Homo sapiens: one gene and its partners. The protein of the gene in region 3 purifies or fractionates together with the protein of the main gene of each other region. This does not show direct contact. Each region holds a gene or a part of one and is shown on either strand. Other genes may lie near its edges.

Region 1 (6,462 bases), on a different chromosome or scaffold from region 3:
TGTGTAAGTGGAACTGCGCAGTTCAAACCCGTGTTGTTCAAGGGTCAAGTATATATAAAGAGCTCCCAGTAATTAATAAGCACAAGGCAGACAACCCTATAGAAAATTGGATAAAGGACAGTGAACAGACTTTTGACAGCAGAAATACAGAAATGCCTAAAAAGATGACAAATGCCTAGCCTTATTAGTAATCAGGGAAATACAAATTAGAAGAGTAAGGTATTTTCATCCATTGATTGGCACAAATTACAAACAGTGGTAATAATCTGGTGTGACTAAGGGTGTATTCCTAAGATTCTATCATGCGCTGCTGGTGAAAGTGCATGCTAGCACAGACTTTGGAGGGTAATGATGGCAATAGATATTTGGTAAATTCTGTCTGCCTACCTAGCTTATAAAATATTTGTGCATGTACATAGACATGTAAATATAAGGCTATACACTGTAGCATTGTCATTAGAAAAGGGACTAACTTAAATGTCCAGGTCTTTAGAAATAGATCATATAAGATCTTATTAAAGGTCTTTACAAAATTATAGCTACATAATAATCTTAAGAAAGAATCCAGTCTATTTTGACAGCATCAATTCCAAATTCCTGGTATTTTTATTATATTATACTTTAATTTTAAAGAAAAAAGGTAGTAGTATCTGTAAAAGCTTACTGGAAATACACAAGTGTAGGTATTATGCCCACACTATGAAACATTACTCAGCTTTAAAAAGAATGGCCTAGATCTACATGTATATATGGAAAGGATTTCTGAGGCTCAGTTAAATGAAAAAAGAGCTGCAATGTATGTATGTTATAACGCCATTAGTATAACAGCAAACCCAAATGCTGTTTTACAAGTGTACATTAATAAATAAAGGCATAGAAAAACTTCTGGGAGGATGACAGCCAGTTACCAGGTTTCCTTTGGGTCGGGAAGTAAAACTGGGGGCAGGGAGACATCCTGCCTATCCTCTGTATTTGAGTTTTTACCAAGAAAAGTGTTCACGATTAATTTTATAATAAAAAAGTAAAGTATTTTAACTGTTCTTTCCAAATAAAAGTCTTTTAGAAAATGATTAAAAGCAACTAAATTAGAGGTTGTGAGAAATGATTCTTAAACAGTCCATGACTAGCAAATTTTTTATATTGGAGGATTCAAATATTTGTGTGTGATCTCAAAGACTAATAGTATTTCATAATAATATTTAATAATCTTCATTTATCTGAAACAAAAATGAATGAGACACAAATGAGGGATCAGGAGCCCTGGGGCCTGTGGCTGAGCCTCCCCAACTTACTGTTTTTTTTGTTGTTGTTGTTACGGAGTCTCGCTCTGTTGCCCAGGCTGGAGTGCAGTGGCCTGATCTCGGCTAACTGCAAGCTCCGCCTCCACGGTTCATGCCATTCTGCCATTCTCCTGCCTCAGCCTCCTGAGTAGCTGGGACTACAGGCACCTGCCACCATGCCCGGCTAATTTTTTGTATTTTTAGTAGAGATGGGATTTCACCATGTTAGCCAGGATGGTCTTGATCTCCTGACCTCGTGATCCACCCGCCTCGGCCTCTTGAAGTGCTGGGATTACAGGCATGAGCCACTGCGGCCGGCCCCCCACTTATTGTTGAATGTGTAGCAGCAGCTTCCCAAAAGCCAGCATCGTTTTTAGGTGAAAAATGGGCCTAGAAAACCAAAGCCATTGCCAGTTCTGGTGGTGACCATGCAGAGGTGGGCGTAAGGAAGCCATGGATCTGAACAAAACCTCAGTTGTTCGTATTAGAGCCAATTATCAGATTCAGTGGGATGCAAATCTATGGAGAGCGTGTGTTCAATATGAAAATTTAAAAAAATCTTGAACTTTTAGAATGTGGTCTTATCTAGTCCTTAAAAATTAGGAAATTTTTAGTGCATGTAGCAGCCAGAGTGAAAAACAGCTTTTTTTTTTTTTTTTTTTTTTTTGAGACGAAGTCTCTAACCAGGCTGGTGTGCAGTGGTGTGATCTTGGCTCACTTCAGCCTCTGCCTCCTGGGTTCAAGCAATTCTCCTGCCTCAGCCTCCTGAGTAGCTGGGACTGCAGGCGCGCGCCACCACGCCCAGCTAATTATTTTGTATTTTTAGTAGAGATGGGGTTTCACCATGTTGCCAGGCTGGTCTCGATCTCCTGACCTTGTGATCCTCTTGCCTCGGCTCCCAAAGTGCTGGGATTACAGGCGTGAGCCACCGCGTCCGGCCCAAAAACAGCTTTTTAATAGAAGTTATTATCCTTAGTGAAATTTCTCAAATATGAGGATTAGAGAGTCTTGAAAGAGTTTTCATTTGAATGTTATGAGCCAATCAAAGTTATCTGGGTTTTTCCATAATGAACCTCCCTTCTTAGATCCAGAAAAGATCTTCATGGTCCTTGGGTCTAACTCCATTTTATATAATATTTCTTTTTCTTTTTTTTTTTTTAAATTCCCAATGTTAGTTTTTCTGAAATTTTATATATTTTTGAGTTAAAAAATTTAAGTTGTAAAAGTAATATATGTTCATCTTGGAAAATACCAAAAGATATGAAGGAAAAAAAAATCACCCAGAATCTTACCACATAAAGACAACTAAGGCATTAGCATATTTCCTTTGATTTCCATGTGCTGTAATTTAAATTTGTCTCGTTTTATGCAGTTGGAACAATATTATACAAATGGTTTTGTATACTTCTCATTTGTAACATTGCTTTTTTTTTTTTTGAGATGGAGTTTCACTCTTGTTCACCCAGGCTGGAGTGCAATGGTGTGATCTTGGCTCTCTGCAACCTCCACCTCCTGGGGTTCAAGCTACTCTTCTGCCTCAGCCTCCTGAGTAGCTGGGATTACAGGCATGCACCACCATGCCCGGCTAATTTTGTATTTTTAGTAGAGGTTTTAGGTTTTAGGTTTCGTCATGTTGGCTAGGCTGGTCTCCAACTCCTGACCTCAGGTGATCTGCCTGCCTTGGCTTCCAAAAGTGCTGGGATTATAGGTATGAGCCACCGCACCCAGCCGTACCATTACTTTTATCTGTTATAACTGTATAAATATATACATTTTGGTGACCGCATGATATATATATATATTGAATGATCCTCCCACCTCAGCCTCCCCTGAGTAGCTGGGGGTACATGTACGCTCCATTACACCCTGCTTGTTTCTTAATTTCTTTCTTTTTTTTTTTTTTTGAGACAGAGTTTCACTCTTGTTGCCCAGGCTGGAGCACAGTGGCGTGATCTTGGCTTACGGCAACCTCTGCCTCCCGGGTTCAAGTGATTCTCCTGCCTCAGCCTCCCAGGTAGCTGGGATTACAGGCATGCACCACCACGCCTGGCTAATTTTGTATTTTTAGTAGAGTCAGGGTTTCTCCATGTTGGTCAGGCTGGTCTTGAATTCCTGACCTCAGGTGATCCACCCGCCTTGGCCTCCCAAAGTGTTGGAATTACAGGTGTGAGCCACCACGCCTGGCCCACCCTGCTAGTTTCTAAAAAATGTTTTGTAGAGATGGGTTCTCACTATGTTGATCATGCTGCTCCCATCTTTTGATAAGTTTCAGTGTATGCTTTTATAAATAATGTCAGATTTTTATTCCTGGAGCTTCTTACCTATTTCCGATTATTGCCTTAGATTTAGATGTTAGAGTCTCTTGATAAATAATGCAAAAAACTGCTTTGGAAACCATAACCTTTATTTGAACAATGACATGGCACACTGCTTGCAGAATGAGCCTGGGGCAGGAATCTCCTGAGTCCTGAGCCTGCTTTCTCTTTTGTAATCTTCTGCCTTCTCTTGGGATTTAAGCAAAAGATCAGAGGTTCTTCCTTTAATTACAGTGCTTCCTGCAAGCAAATGAAAGGTGAAAATCCAAGGCAGAAATGTGAACTTGCTCTTCTATTAGCTGTGGACTCTATGAGAAGGTCTAGTGTTTATGTAGCATTTCAGCTCCTGCCTTTACAGCTGAAGTAACACCAAACCACAGAACATGCAAAAATGTTTTCCTTACATATAAATGTTCCTATTTATGATTTACTATGCCACCTTTTAAAATTAATGAGTAACATTGTTACACGTGATGGGCAGGGCTCTACGCCCTCATGTAGGCTTTTCGGGGTCTCCACACTTACCCACTTTTCCAGTCCACTCCCCTGCCTCCTCTTCCTCCCCACCCACTGTGTGGTGGTCCATTGGAACTGGCAGTCTACTTGCCACTCCTCCCTGCCATGCAGTTATATGGAGTCTTCCCTCCTGAGCTAGCACTCCCCTGCCCTACATTGAATCTGCAGGTCCCCCTCGTTCTATGAGACCAGCTTCCCAAAGCCTTCCAGCACCCTCTGCAGCAGCTCTCAGTGTCCTGCCCAGAGGCAATCGCTTCCTGCCCTGAGGTTCCACCCACTAATGTGGCACTTGCCTTGCTGAATGCTGTGTTTGCTCATCGGTCTCTCTTCATAACTAGACGGAGAGCAACTCTACGATGGGGTCTGCACCTTGTTAATTTCTGTATCTTCTGCAGAACACCTGCCACTTAAAAGATATTTGTTGTTCTTTGGTCACTAAATTAGGTGAGAGTTCAGGCCTGATGCTCTCTATGGCTTTGTTGCAGGTCTTTCTGTCTGAGTGGAAGGAGCACAAAGTTGCACTCTCACAGCTCACCAGCCTGGAGATGAAAGATGATTTCCTCCATGGACTGCAGATGCTGAAATCTCTCCAAGGCACACATGTTGTCACGCTGCTTGGCTATTGTGAGGATGACAACACTATGCTTACTGAATATCACCCTCTAGGTTCCTTGAGTAACCTGGAAGAAACACTAAACCTTTCAAAGTACCAAAATGTGAACACGTGGCAGCACAGGCTGGAGCTGGCCATGGACTATGTCAGCATCATTAATTACCTGCACCACAGCCCTGTGGGCACACGGGTCATGTGCGACTCCAACGACCTGCCGAAGACACTGTCCCAGTATCTGCTAACAAGCAACTTCAGCATTTTGGCAAATGACTTGGACGCCTTACCCCTGGTGAACCACAGCTCCGGGATGCTGGTGAAGTGCGGCCACAGGGAGCTGCATGGGGATTTCGTGGCTCCAGAGCAACTGTGGCCCTATGGAGAGGACGTGCCTTTCCACGATGATCTCATGCCCTCATATGATGAGAAGATTGACATTTGGAAGATCCCAGACATCTCCAGTTTCCTTCTGGGGCACATTGAAGGGAGTGATATGGTCCGATTCCATTTGTTTGATATTCACAAAGCATGCAAGAGCCAGACTCCCTCAGAAAGACCCACTGCCCAGGACGTTCTGGAGACCTACCAGAAGGTCTTGGATACACTTAGAGATGCCATGATGTCTCAGGCAAGAGAGATGCTGTGAAAACCAGTCCAGCCAATGAAGGTGGGATTGAAGGGCTGAATGGAAGTTACAGCATTCTACTCTGATGGTGGAGTTTTTTGCCTGAGTTTCGTGTTTTATTGTTTTTTTTATGGCTTAGCCATGTGGTTCGTTGTCCACATCCACATGTACGTTTGTATGTAGTCCACATTGGTTGTTAGATTTTTTTTTTTTTCTTTGAGATGCGGTCTTGCTCTGTTGCTGAGGCTGGAGTGCAGTGATGTGATCTTGGCTCACTGCAGCCTCTGCCTCCCAGGTTCAAGCAATTCTCCCACCTCAGCCTCCTGAGTAGCTGGGATTACAGGCACACCACCACGCCTGGCTAATTTTTGTATTTTTAGTGGAGGTGGGGTTTCACCATGTTGGCCAGGCTGGTCCCGAACTCCTGACTTCCTCGGCCTCCCAAAGTGTTGGGATTACAGGCATGGGCCACTATGCCTGGCCAGTTGTTAGATTTCCATGGATTTGTAGTTTCCAAAGTTTCTCGTTATTGATTTCTACTTTTCTTCCATTGTGGTCTGAGAAGGTACTTGATATGATTTAGATTTTTAAAAATTTATTGAGACTTGTTTTGTGGTCTAACATATGGTCTATGCTGCAGAATGGTCCATGTGCTGATGAGAAGAATGTATATTCTGCAGCTGTTGGAAGAAAGGGTCTGTAAATGTCTGTTAGGTCCATTTGGTCTATAATGCAGATTAAGTCTGATGTTTCTTTCTAGATGATCTGCCCAATACTGAAAGTGAGGCATTAAAATCCCCTGCTTTTTTTTGTATTAGGATCTGCCTCTCTCTTTAGCTCTAATAGTGTTTGTTTATACATGTGAGTACTTTGGTATTGGGTGCATATATATTTAAAATTGTTACATCCTTTTGCTGAATTGATCCCTTTTTCATTATGTAATGATCTTCTTTGTCCCTTTTTATGTTTTCTGACTTAGTCTATTATGAATAAGTATAGCTACTCCTGCACATTTTTGGTTTAAATTTGCACGGAATATTTTTTTCCATCTGTTCACTTTCAGTCTATATGTGTTTTTACATGTGAAGTGAGTTTGTTATAGGTAACATATAGTTG
Region 2 (2,614 bases), on a different chromosome or scaffold from region 3:
CTGGCATCCTGTCCCCTGGTCAGAAGAAACTACCCAAAACTTAAAGCTCCCCCAGCTCCCTGACCACCTCATTCACAGGCTTCTGTCCTGGGAGCCACACCTGGGGCCTCAGCAAGAGGAGGGCCCTGGGCCAGCAGCCTGGGCTTCTAGGGCTCACCTCACCTCTGCCAGTAGCGCCCAGAGGGCATATTCTGGGGGCTGAGTGGGTGGTGGGGGTAGGGAGAGACCCCAAATTCCCCCCTCTCCTAATTCTCCCACCCCCAACCTAGGCCCCATTTGAGGCTCAAGGAAAGCCCCAGGCTGAGTCCAGGCGCCAAGCAGACCCCAGCTGCACCTGGCTTGGCTCCAACACCATGGAGACAGTGGCTGGGGAAGCTGGCTAACCCCTCACCTTCTGTGATGTTTGACAGCTGACCCTCTCCCCATCATACAGGAAGGGTAGCAGATCCACTTTCTCCCAGTCTGGATTCCTGCACACAGCGAGCCTGAGCCATGTGTTCCTCCTTGCCACCCCAGCCTGCATTCAGTGCCTCTGATCCAGGGAGATGAACCCAGGGGTTGCTCCTGGACAGGGCAGATGAAGGGGCTGCTTGCTTGGAGGATGTATTGGGGGTGGAAGGAGCAGGTTAGAAGGAGTTTGGGCCATCAACCTGGCTCAGCACTGGTTTGGGGCACCCCAACCACCAGCAGAGTGCTCTCATCATCCCCTTTTGCTATCTTGTGGCTCAGGAAGCACCAGTCATTGGGGGTGGGGTGGGTAAGGGTTTCTCAGGGTCGACCCAGGCATAGGGAGAGAAAACCCTTAACATGTTTCATCCCAGCACCCTCCTCCTTGCAGCTGGTTGAGTATTTCTCAGGCCTTCTCCATCCTCCTCGTACTTCAGCTCCCTCCTCAACTGGGACTTGGTGTGTACCAGAGGCAGGGGCCTGCTGACTCCCTGGATGCTGCTCCTGGGAGCCCTGCACGGGGGAGGGCTGCAGAGGGGCCTCCTGCTGCATTCTGCAGTCCTCGTGCCCTGTGGGTGATGTTCTGTAGCTGGCCCTGGACACATCTCTTTCCAAGCTTGAAGTGGGGGTGGGGGAAGGTGGAGAGGACACTACTTGTGTCTCTTTGTTCTACCTCAGCTCCTCACCTCAGGGCTGAGTGGCCCTTAATAAATGTGGGGGGAGGGCAGCAGGCTTTGTGGAAGTGCAGGGAGCTGAGGCTAATTTAGAGTGGGGAGAAGAGTGCACAGCTGCCTCCTCCCACCCTCTCTCCCTCCCTCCCTCCTTCCCTCCCTCCCTTCCTCCCAGCTCTTTCCCTCTGCCCTGTCTGTGCAGCCCCAGTCAGGGTAGAGGGCAGAGGGCAGCTGGAGCAAGCCCCCTGAGCCCGGGAGGCTGCATTATTCATGAGTGCACTGCGTGCTGAGTTGCCTCTCCCTGGAGGAGGGGGTGGGGTGGTCCTAGCTAACCTGTGCTCCCTTTTCCTGGTCATAGGAGCTGACACAATGAGTGACACGAGTTCTGTAAGCTTGGAAGTGAGCCCTGGCAGCCGGGAGACTTCAGCTGCCACACTGTCACCTGGGGCGAGCAGCCGTGGCTGGGATGACGGTGACACCCGCAGCGAGCACAGCTACAGCGAGTCAGGTGCCAGCGGCTCCTCTTTTGAGGAGCTGGACTTGGAGGGCGAGGGGCCCTTAGGGGAGTCACGGCTGGACCCTGGGACTGAGCCCCTGGGGACTACCAAGTGGCTCTGGGAGCCCACTGCCCCTGAGAAGGGCAAGGAGTAACCCATGGCCTGCACCCTCCTGCAGTGCAGTTGCTGAGGAACTGAGCAGACTCTCCAGCAGACTCTCCAGCCCTCTTCCTCCTTCCTCTGGGGGAGGAGGGGTTCCTGAGGGACCTGACTTCCCCTGCTCCAGGCCTCTTGCTAAGCCTTCTCCTCACTGCCCTTTAGGCTCCCAGGGCCAGAGGAGCCAGGGACTATTTTCTGCACCAGCCCCCAGGGCTGCCACCCCTGTTGTGTCTTTTTTTCAGACTCACAGTGGAGCTTCCAGGACCCAGAATAAAGCCAATGATTTACTTGTTTCACCTGGATTTGGGTTGTGTATTTGTTTGTTCTGCCTTGGTTGGGGGCGGTGGGGGGATGGCTGTACAGATAGGCTGGGAGTGGGAAGGAGCCTCCCCTCCCCAGGACAAAGAATGGAAGGAACATGGCAGGTACCCTGGGGTTGGGGGAGGAGGGGAGTTAGAGATCCTCCACGTCCTGCTCTGTGACCCCAGTGGCCAGCTGCCCCTCCATTGCAGCTGCCAGAGAGCAAGCAGAGCCTGGCTTGGGTGAGAGCTGAGTATGGGGTGCCCTTCAGGGCTCAGGAATGGGGAGCTCACAGCCTGTCTTCATCTGCCTCCAAGGGATGCCTTTGTGTCTGTGACTAGTGTGCCTGCACGCTGGTACTTCCCCAGTAGGCGAGGCTCCCCCACTGTGCCTGCCAGTGGCTGTGTACCTGTGTGTGTGCATGTGCACCCACGCTCATGCATTTGGCTCTGTGTAACCACGGATGGATGGGGCTGCTTGGGTAAAGCTGTGCCCAGGTGAGCATCAGGGTATGATTGTACCTGAGCATGGCTGAGTCTG
Region 3 (7,042 bases):
CAGCTACTTGGGAGGCTGAGGTGGAGGATGGCTTGATCCCAAGAGGCTGAGGTTGCAGTGAGCCAAGATCACACCACTGCTGTCAAGCCCAAATGACAGACCAAGACCCTGTCTCCAAAGGAAAAAAAAGAAGAGTTGGGAGTGGAACTGTACATGGTTAATAACCCTGGACTTTGCTCTTTGTGGAAGCATTGGCCTTCAGGAATTTGGTGAGACTCCCAAATGTATCAGTGCAGTTAGTCTCCCTAAGGGATGGTTGTTAGGTGCTTCCTATGCCATTTGATGCTGAGGAAGACTAATTCTGTGTTTTTGTTTTGTTTTTTGTTTTTCTTCTGAGACGGAGTTTCGCTCTTGTTGCCCAGGCTGGAATGCAGTGGCACGATTTCAGGTCAATGGCACAATCTCGGCTCAGTGCAACCTCTGCCTCCTGGGTTCAAGCGATTTTCTTGCCTCAGCCTCCCTAGTAGCTGGAATTACAGGCACCTGCCACCACGCCCAGCTAATTTTTGTATTTTTAATAGAGATGGGGTTTCTCCATGTTGACCAGGCTGGTCTCGAACTCCTGACCTCAGGTGATCTGCCCACCTCAGCCTCCCAATGTGCTGGGATTACAGGTGTGAGCCACCGCACCCGGCCTAATTCTGTGTTTTCAAGATGTTCCTGCTAACTGGATTTTACTGATAATTATTTGGTTATGATTCTCACTACTTTTATTTATTTGTGAGTTATCTTGCCATAAAACCTTCTCATATATGTGCCAACTCTGCATCTCCTGTGATGACAGATTCTCCAAAGTAGTGAATCCAATTAATTTGAATACATATAATTTGGAGGAATAAAAGGTGTTTCTTCAGTGTGCACTAAGCCTTTTCTCAAGCTTATCGAGGACTTAATTTTCACTTGAAAGCACACCTCTTCCAAAAGAATGATCACCTGCAGACTTTTCTTTGAAGAAGCCCATGAATAGAAGTTAAATAACCAATTAATTTCTAGGAAAACATTTCATTTCCTAGGATAGTCCGTGGCTTGTCAGAAGTGGCGACATACAAGCTCATATCCAGAAATTTTGTTTCTGTTATGATAGGAAAGGGATTTTAAAAAAAAACTATTTTATTTTTTTAAGTTCCAGCATACATGTGCAGAATGTGCAGGTTTGTTACATAGATAAACGTGCCATGGTGGTTTGCTGCAGCTATCAACCCATCACCTAAGTATTAAGTCCAGCATGTATTAGCTCTTTTCCTTAATGCTCTTCTCCCGCCCTGCCCTCCCTCTTTTTTTTCTTAAAGAGGTGGAGTCTCATTATGTAAGCCCAGCTGGTCTTGAAATCCTGGGCTCCAGCTGTCCTCTGCCCTCACCTCAACCTCCTGAGTAGCTGGGATTACAGGTGCACACCACTGTGCCCATTTGGGAAAGGGAATTTAACCACTTTTCTCTTACTTTCATTCTGGTGCTTTTATTGAACACTTGGTCTCTGATGATACTTTAACTAGGGTTTCATGCTAGAAAAAAATCTAACTCTGGTGAGCTGTTGCAGGAGTTTGGGTTATGAAGAATGGAAACTAGGAGGGGGCCACATTAGAAATACACAATAGCCAGGCGTGGTAGCTCACGCCTGAAATCCCAGCACTTTGGGAAGCTGAGGCAGGCAGATCACTTGAGCTCAGGAGTTCAAGACCAGCCTGGGCAACATGGTGAGACCCCCATCTCTGCTAAAAATACAAAAATAATTAGGTGGGTATGGTGGCGTACGCCTGTGGTCCCAGCTACTCAGGAGGCTGAGGTGGGAGGATGGCTTGAACCCAGGAGGCAGAGGTTGCAGTGAGCCGAGATTGTGCCACTGCACTCCAACCTGGGCAACAGAATGAGACCCTATCTCAAAAAGAAGAAGAAGAAAAAAGAAAAAAAAACAAGAAACTCTTGCTTCTACTCTTTTATCTTCAAATCAACATGTATGGTATCATTTGCAAGTAACATGTACTAACCCATATTTCTTTCAACCAGGCAGTGATAACCTTTTAGTAATCTTGAAAAGAAAATGGTGGAAGTACATCCTGCTGGGACTAGCAGATGTGGAAGCTAATTATGTGATCGTCAGAGCCTACCAGTACACAACTCTAACCAGTGTCCAGGTAAGAGGGAGCCCTCTGACCACTTTGGATTTTATAGCTTCAAAAGAAGAACACGAAGTCATATGTGTTGACCTAATTTTATTGAAAATCTATTCACTTGAAGAAAACCTAAACACAGGTGGATGCTGTTTTCTAGTAGAGCATATGCTCTAATGAGTAATGTTTCCTAGAATTAGTGAAAATGTATACAACTTAAGCTGCCCCCAAACTGCTATGGCAGATTAGAACAGTTCCTACCAAATAAGCATAAATATTTAGTTGGCAGTTGATGCTGTGGTGTTGACACGTGTTCTGTTTTATATGCTGCTCAAACATGGCATATGAAAGTATACCTTTGTTCTATAGGAAAGTTGAAGCTTTGCAAGCATAGTAGATATTCATGACAAAGAAACCATTGGAAGAAACCCAGTAGACATTTTTGGGAGAGGTGGTAGCCAGAGTTAAAACTCCCATCCCTATTTCTTTGTTAGGTTTATTCTTGCTGCATTGAAAGAAAAATATTCCTACATTGCAGAGGTTTTCAACTTTGTAAAGTTGAAGACAACTGATTTCAGTTGTCTTAATGTTAGCAAACTATGGGATGTTTCCTAACACTGACTCACCATTACTGACTACAAAATGTTTTATAAGTGGAGGTGAAAGTGAGATAGACTCAAATGCCAGGTTTAGATGTCACAGTTTGTTTATAACTTTTTTTTCATTTTTTTAAATAATAAAAAAAAGTGTGTATCAGATGTGGGATTTGAAGTTTATAACTTTTTGATATGTCCCTTTCTCACTATACAAAATACAGAGATGTTCTTACTTGACTCCAAATTTTAGGGACTGGAAAAATTGAAATTAGACTTATTTCGCATAGAAAATATAAGGATTGATGAGAACTCAGTATTTTTCCAGTGTGAACCTACATTAAATGTTACTACCATTATATTAACTACTTTCTTTTCTGTAACATTGTGCTAAGCATTGTTCTCAGGAAACCTCTTGGATTTTGACCAGTATGGGTTAAAAAGCTGAGATAGGAAATGATTTATTAAGACAGACACTATAGGAGGCACAAAAAGAACCTAAAGTTTCGTAAAAATTAAACCCAGCAGTTACCTAGAGAATGAAGTTTATCACTAATAGGAGTAAGTGTACTTTTAGCGTTGGTTAATGAAGTATACATAAGTATGTAGAAAATGGTATTTTCTTGTCACATCTACTCTCATAATCTCACCTACATTTTAATTACTTGATTACAATTCCCAGGAACTTTGATCTCTAACTAATGATAAAAAGTTTTGAATTGGTGCAAGGCCTAAACACAGTTAAACAGAACACTTACAGTTGGATAGTTGCGACTGAAGTTCATGCCTTCTTTCAATTTCAAAGAAATTGAAAACAATTTCTTTCACGCTAGCCTCTTAGAAAAACCTAAGCATTTGGTTGCCAAAAGTCATGCACTTACGGTCCTAGCAAAGAATATATTATAAAAAAGGCATCTAACAAGGTAATGTTTTCTCCAGCAGCAGCGACAGCTGTGATAGGAATGATTCAAGCTGGTTCTCCAACTGAGTAAATCTCTGGCCTGGGTAGTCCAAAAGGATGGAAATCTGGATTAGGTGGTCTTTGAACCTTCTTCTTAAGGATTCCTTAGAAGGTTCTGTAATTACCAACAGTCATGGGATAGTTCACGTGAAGATGATGATGTGGCCCAGGTTGCTGCTCATGTCCCTTCCCACTTTACTGCCACATCAACCCATTTCCCACTCATGGCCTGCTCCTTCTCCCCTGTGCTGCTCTGTTCTTCCTAGAATGCAGTCCTTTTTGAAGCCTGCTCCCCTCATTGTCAAAGGTTAATTCAATTTTCATTTTCTCTTCTATACTCTATTGTACCTCTAATATGATCTAACTTGTTTTTATACCCATGTCGCAGGGTCTGTCTTAGTACTCTGCTTACTGTGACTATACAATAATTTTTAAAAATAAAATTGATACTCTTCGAACTGAAACAGAGAAGACATCCATCACCAAGAATACTTTTTTTTTTTCTGAGAAGGAGTCTTGCTCTGTCACCCAGGCTGGAGTACAATGGCATGATCTTGGCTCACTGCAGCCTCCGCCTCCCAGGTTCAAGTGATTCTCCTGCCTTAGCCTCCTGAGCAGCTGGGATTACAGGCACGCGCCACCACACTTGGCTAATTTTTTTTTTTTTTTTTTTTTTGAGGTGGAGTCTCATTCTGTCACCGAGCTGGAGTGAAGTGGGATAATCTTGGTTCACTGCAGCCTTGGCCTCCTGAGTAGCTGGGATTACAGGCATGCGCCCAGCTGATTTTTTTTTTTTTTTTTTTTTTTGTATTTTGAGTAGATACGAGGTTTTGCCATGTTGGCCAGGCTGGTCTCGAACTCCTGACCTCAAGTGATCCTCCGGCCTTGGCCTCTCATAGTGCTGGGATTACAGGCATGAGCCACCACTCCCGGCCACCAAGAATACATTTTGAAAAGAAGGTTCACATGACTAAAGGTGATAGATATCAGATGAGAAGTCATGGAATGTTAGAGTCGGAGGGAAACTGTGTGATCATTTCGTCTGATCTTTTTATTTTATATTTTGACTTGGAGAGTGACTGGCTGGGGCCACACAGCTAGCTGGTCAGCGTGGGGCCGGGGCCTGAGGTTTCTGGAGCTCTGATCATGACATAGGCATCTCCCTCATTGCCCAACAAAAGTTGTTAAAGATAGAGCAAATTTAAGTTTGATTTTAAGACACAAGGGACTCTTCTGTGGTAGTTCTTAGAATGTCTTTTTCTACTTTTTTTGTTTAAGGAATGTAGTTGAGATTTTGTTAAGCCGTTATGGCTGGATTCTGCTGGTGTCTTCAGGGACAGGGTATTATCATTTGCATCGTTTAATGTTTTGTTATTCAGGCAGGCTCAATAAAGCACTTAGGAGATTAGAGTTCTGCAGCTGGAATAAATAACAAGGCAAGATGCCCATTCCTACACATGATGCGTTGGACTCCACTGATGCTACTGCAGTGAAAGGCAATCAGTAAACAACTGTGGACAGGATCGAATGGGCTGTTGGAGATTTAGGGGCCTGTCTTGTTCAAGACCAAACAGATACAGAGAGAATCAGGGACAAGGTTTGAAACAACAAAAGGGTGAGCAATAAAACAGCAGTTTCGGGAATATTACTGGTATAAGGAATATATTTCTTCCTTGAAAGAAATACATTGGAATGCATCAAGAATCTCTTGAATATATTTTATCCTTGAATGCACATTAAATTTGTGAATTTAAGAATTGAGTGAGTGCACTCTCTTTTTTATCTTTTATCTTGCAAACAATTTTGGACCTGCTGTAATTTTGGCACACTTAATCCCTCTGCCTTCCAGATGAGCAATATCAGGTGTATAGCTAGTGTTTTCTGGACCCAGTATCAACAGGTGAGGGGGAGCATGTGAGGAGGATGAGCAAGAGTATTTGCCATGAGCACGAGTGTGTCTCACATGGTGGGGTTGGACGCTTTGTCAGGGAGATGGTGTCTGTTCTCTCACAGTAACCCATGCTTCTTTGTAGCGCTTAGCCCGATTCCAGTGAAATATCTGGTGGTGTGATTATTTATTCCATGTCCTTTCTAGCTTTGTGTGCTCCTAAGGACACAGCTTGCTCTGTCCTGTTCACCGCTATTCCTAGCTCCTTTCACAGTGTCTCACACATGCAAGGTGTTTAACAAATATTTGTTGACTGAGTAAATGGTTGCAGGTAGGAAGGAATGTTTGTCTACTGAACTTAAAGATATACACAGGGCCAGGCGTGGTGGCTCACGCCTGTAATCCCAGCACTTTGGGAGGCCGAGGCAGACAGATCACCTGACATCAGGAGTTCGAGACCAGCCTTGCCAACATGACAAAACCCCATCTCTACTAAAAGATACAAAAATTAGCTGGGCATGGTGGCAGATGGCTGTAATCCCAGCTCCTTGGGAGGCTGAGGCAGGAAGAATTGCTTAAACCCGAGAGGCAGAGGTTGCAGTGAGCCGAGATTGCACCACTGCGCTCCAGCTTGGGCAACAGAGCGAGACTCCATCTCAAAAAAAAAATAATAATAATAAAATAAAAGAAAAGATATACACAGGTGGGAGCATAGAGGTAAAGTGCACAGGCCCTCAGCAGAATTCTTGTATACAGCAACTGACTCTTCCATTGTATTTTATTATCTATTCATTTATTTTGAGACAGGGTCTCTCTGGGTTGTACAGCCTAGAGTGCAGTGGCACCATCACAGCTCACTGCATCCTTGAACTCCGGGCTCAAGTGATCCTCTCACCTTAGCCTCCCAAGTAGCTGGGACTACAGGAGTGCACCACCACACCCAAGGTTTTTTTTTGTTGTTGTTTTTTTTTTTTTTTGTACAGACAGGGTTTCACCATGTTGCCCAGGCTGATATCGAACTCCTGGACTCAAGCAGTCTGCCCGCCACAGCCTCCCAAAGTGCTAAGATTACAGGCGTGAGCCACCGTGCCCAGCTGTCATCCCATTTTTAACTATGTGTTTTTGGCAACTCATTTCACCTCTCTGTATCTTCATTTTCTCATGTATAAAATTGGATTGTAATTTCAGTCTCATGGAATTGTGAGGATTAAATGAGTGAATCCAGGTAAAGCTCTTAGTACAGGGCTGGCAATAATAAATGCTCAATAAATACTGACTCCTATTATAAATACTGACTCCTATTATTTCTTAATTACCCATCTTTTAGCTAATGAGAGATATGTTTTAAACTGTTGATTCTCTTTCCATGCAGCTTTTGGATTGCTTTGGGATTCCTGTGTTGATGGCTCTGTCATGGTTTATTCTTCATGCAAGATACAGAGTGATCCACTTCATCGCCGTGGCTGTCTGTCTGTTGGGTGTAGGAACCATG

The links.
Region 1: the proteins of SLC35F2 (region 3) and POMK purify together in Homo sapiens (affinity purification with mass spectrometry; 4 studies listed by BioGRID and IntAct, with this or other methods). This does not show direct contact.
Region 2: the proteins of SLC35F2 (region 3) and TEX264 purify together in Homo sapiens (affinity purification with mass spectrometry; 2 studies listed by BioGRID and IntAct, with this or other methods). This does not show direct contact.

Annotation. Positions count from the first base shown.
Region 1 is NC_000008.11:43,117,511-43,123,972, forward strand, and holds the end of POMK (protein O-mannose kinase), read left to right. Parts: intron 1-4,596; coding exon 4,597-5,367; 3' UTR 5,368-5,924; downstream 5,925-6,462. UniProt on the Homo sapiens protein: Protein O-mannose kinase that specifically mediates phosphorylation at the 6-position of an O-mannose of the trisaccharide (N-acetylgalactosamine (GalNAc)-beta-1,3-N-acetylglucosamine (GlcNAc)-beta-1,4-mannose) to generate phosphorylated O-mannosyl trisaccharide (N-acetylgalactosamine-beta-1,3-N-acetylglucosamine-beta-1,4-(phosphate-6-)mannose).
Region 2 is NC_000003.12:51,702,248-51,704,861, forward strand, and holds the end of TEX264 (testis-expressed protein 264), read left to right. Parts: intron 1-1,476; coding exon 1,477-1,769; 3' UTR 1,770-2,076; downstream 2,077-2,614. UniProt on the Homo sapiens protein: Major reticulophagy (also called ER-phagy) receptor that acts independently of other candidate reticulophagy receptors to remodel subdomains of the endoplasmic reticulum into autophagosomes upon nutrient stress, which then fuse with lysosomes for endoplasmic reticulum turnover.
Region 3 is NC_000011.10:107,806,757-107,813,798, reverse strand, and holds part of SLC35F2 (solute carrier family 35 member F2), read left to right. Parts: intron 1-2,004; coding exon 2,005-2,132; intron 2,133-6,922; coding exon 6,923-7,042.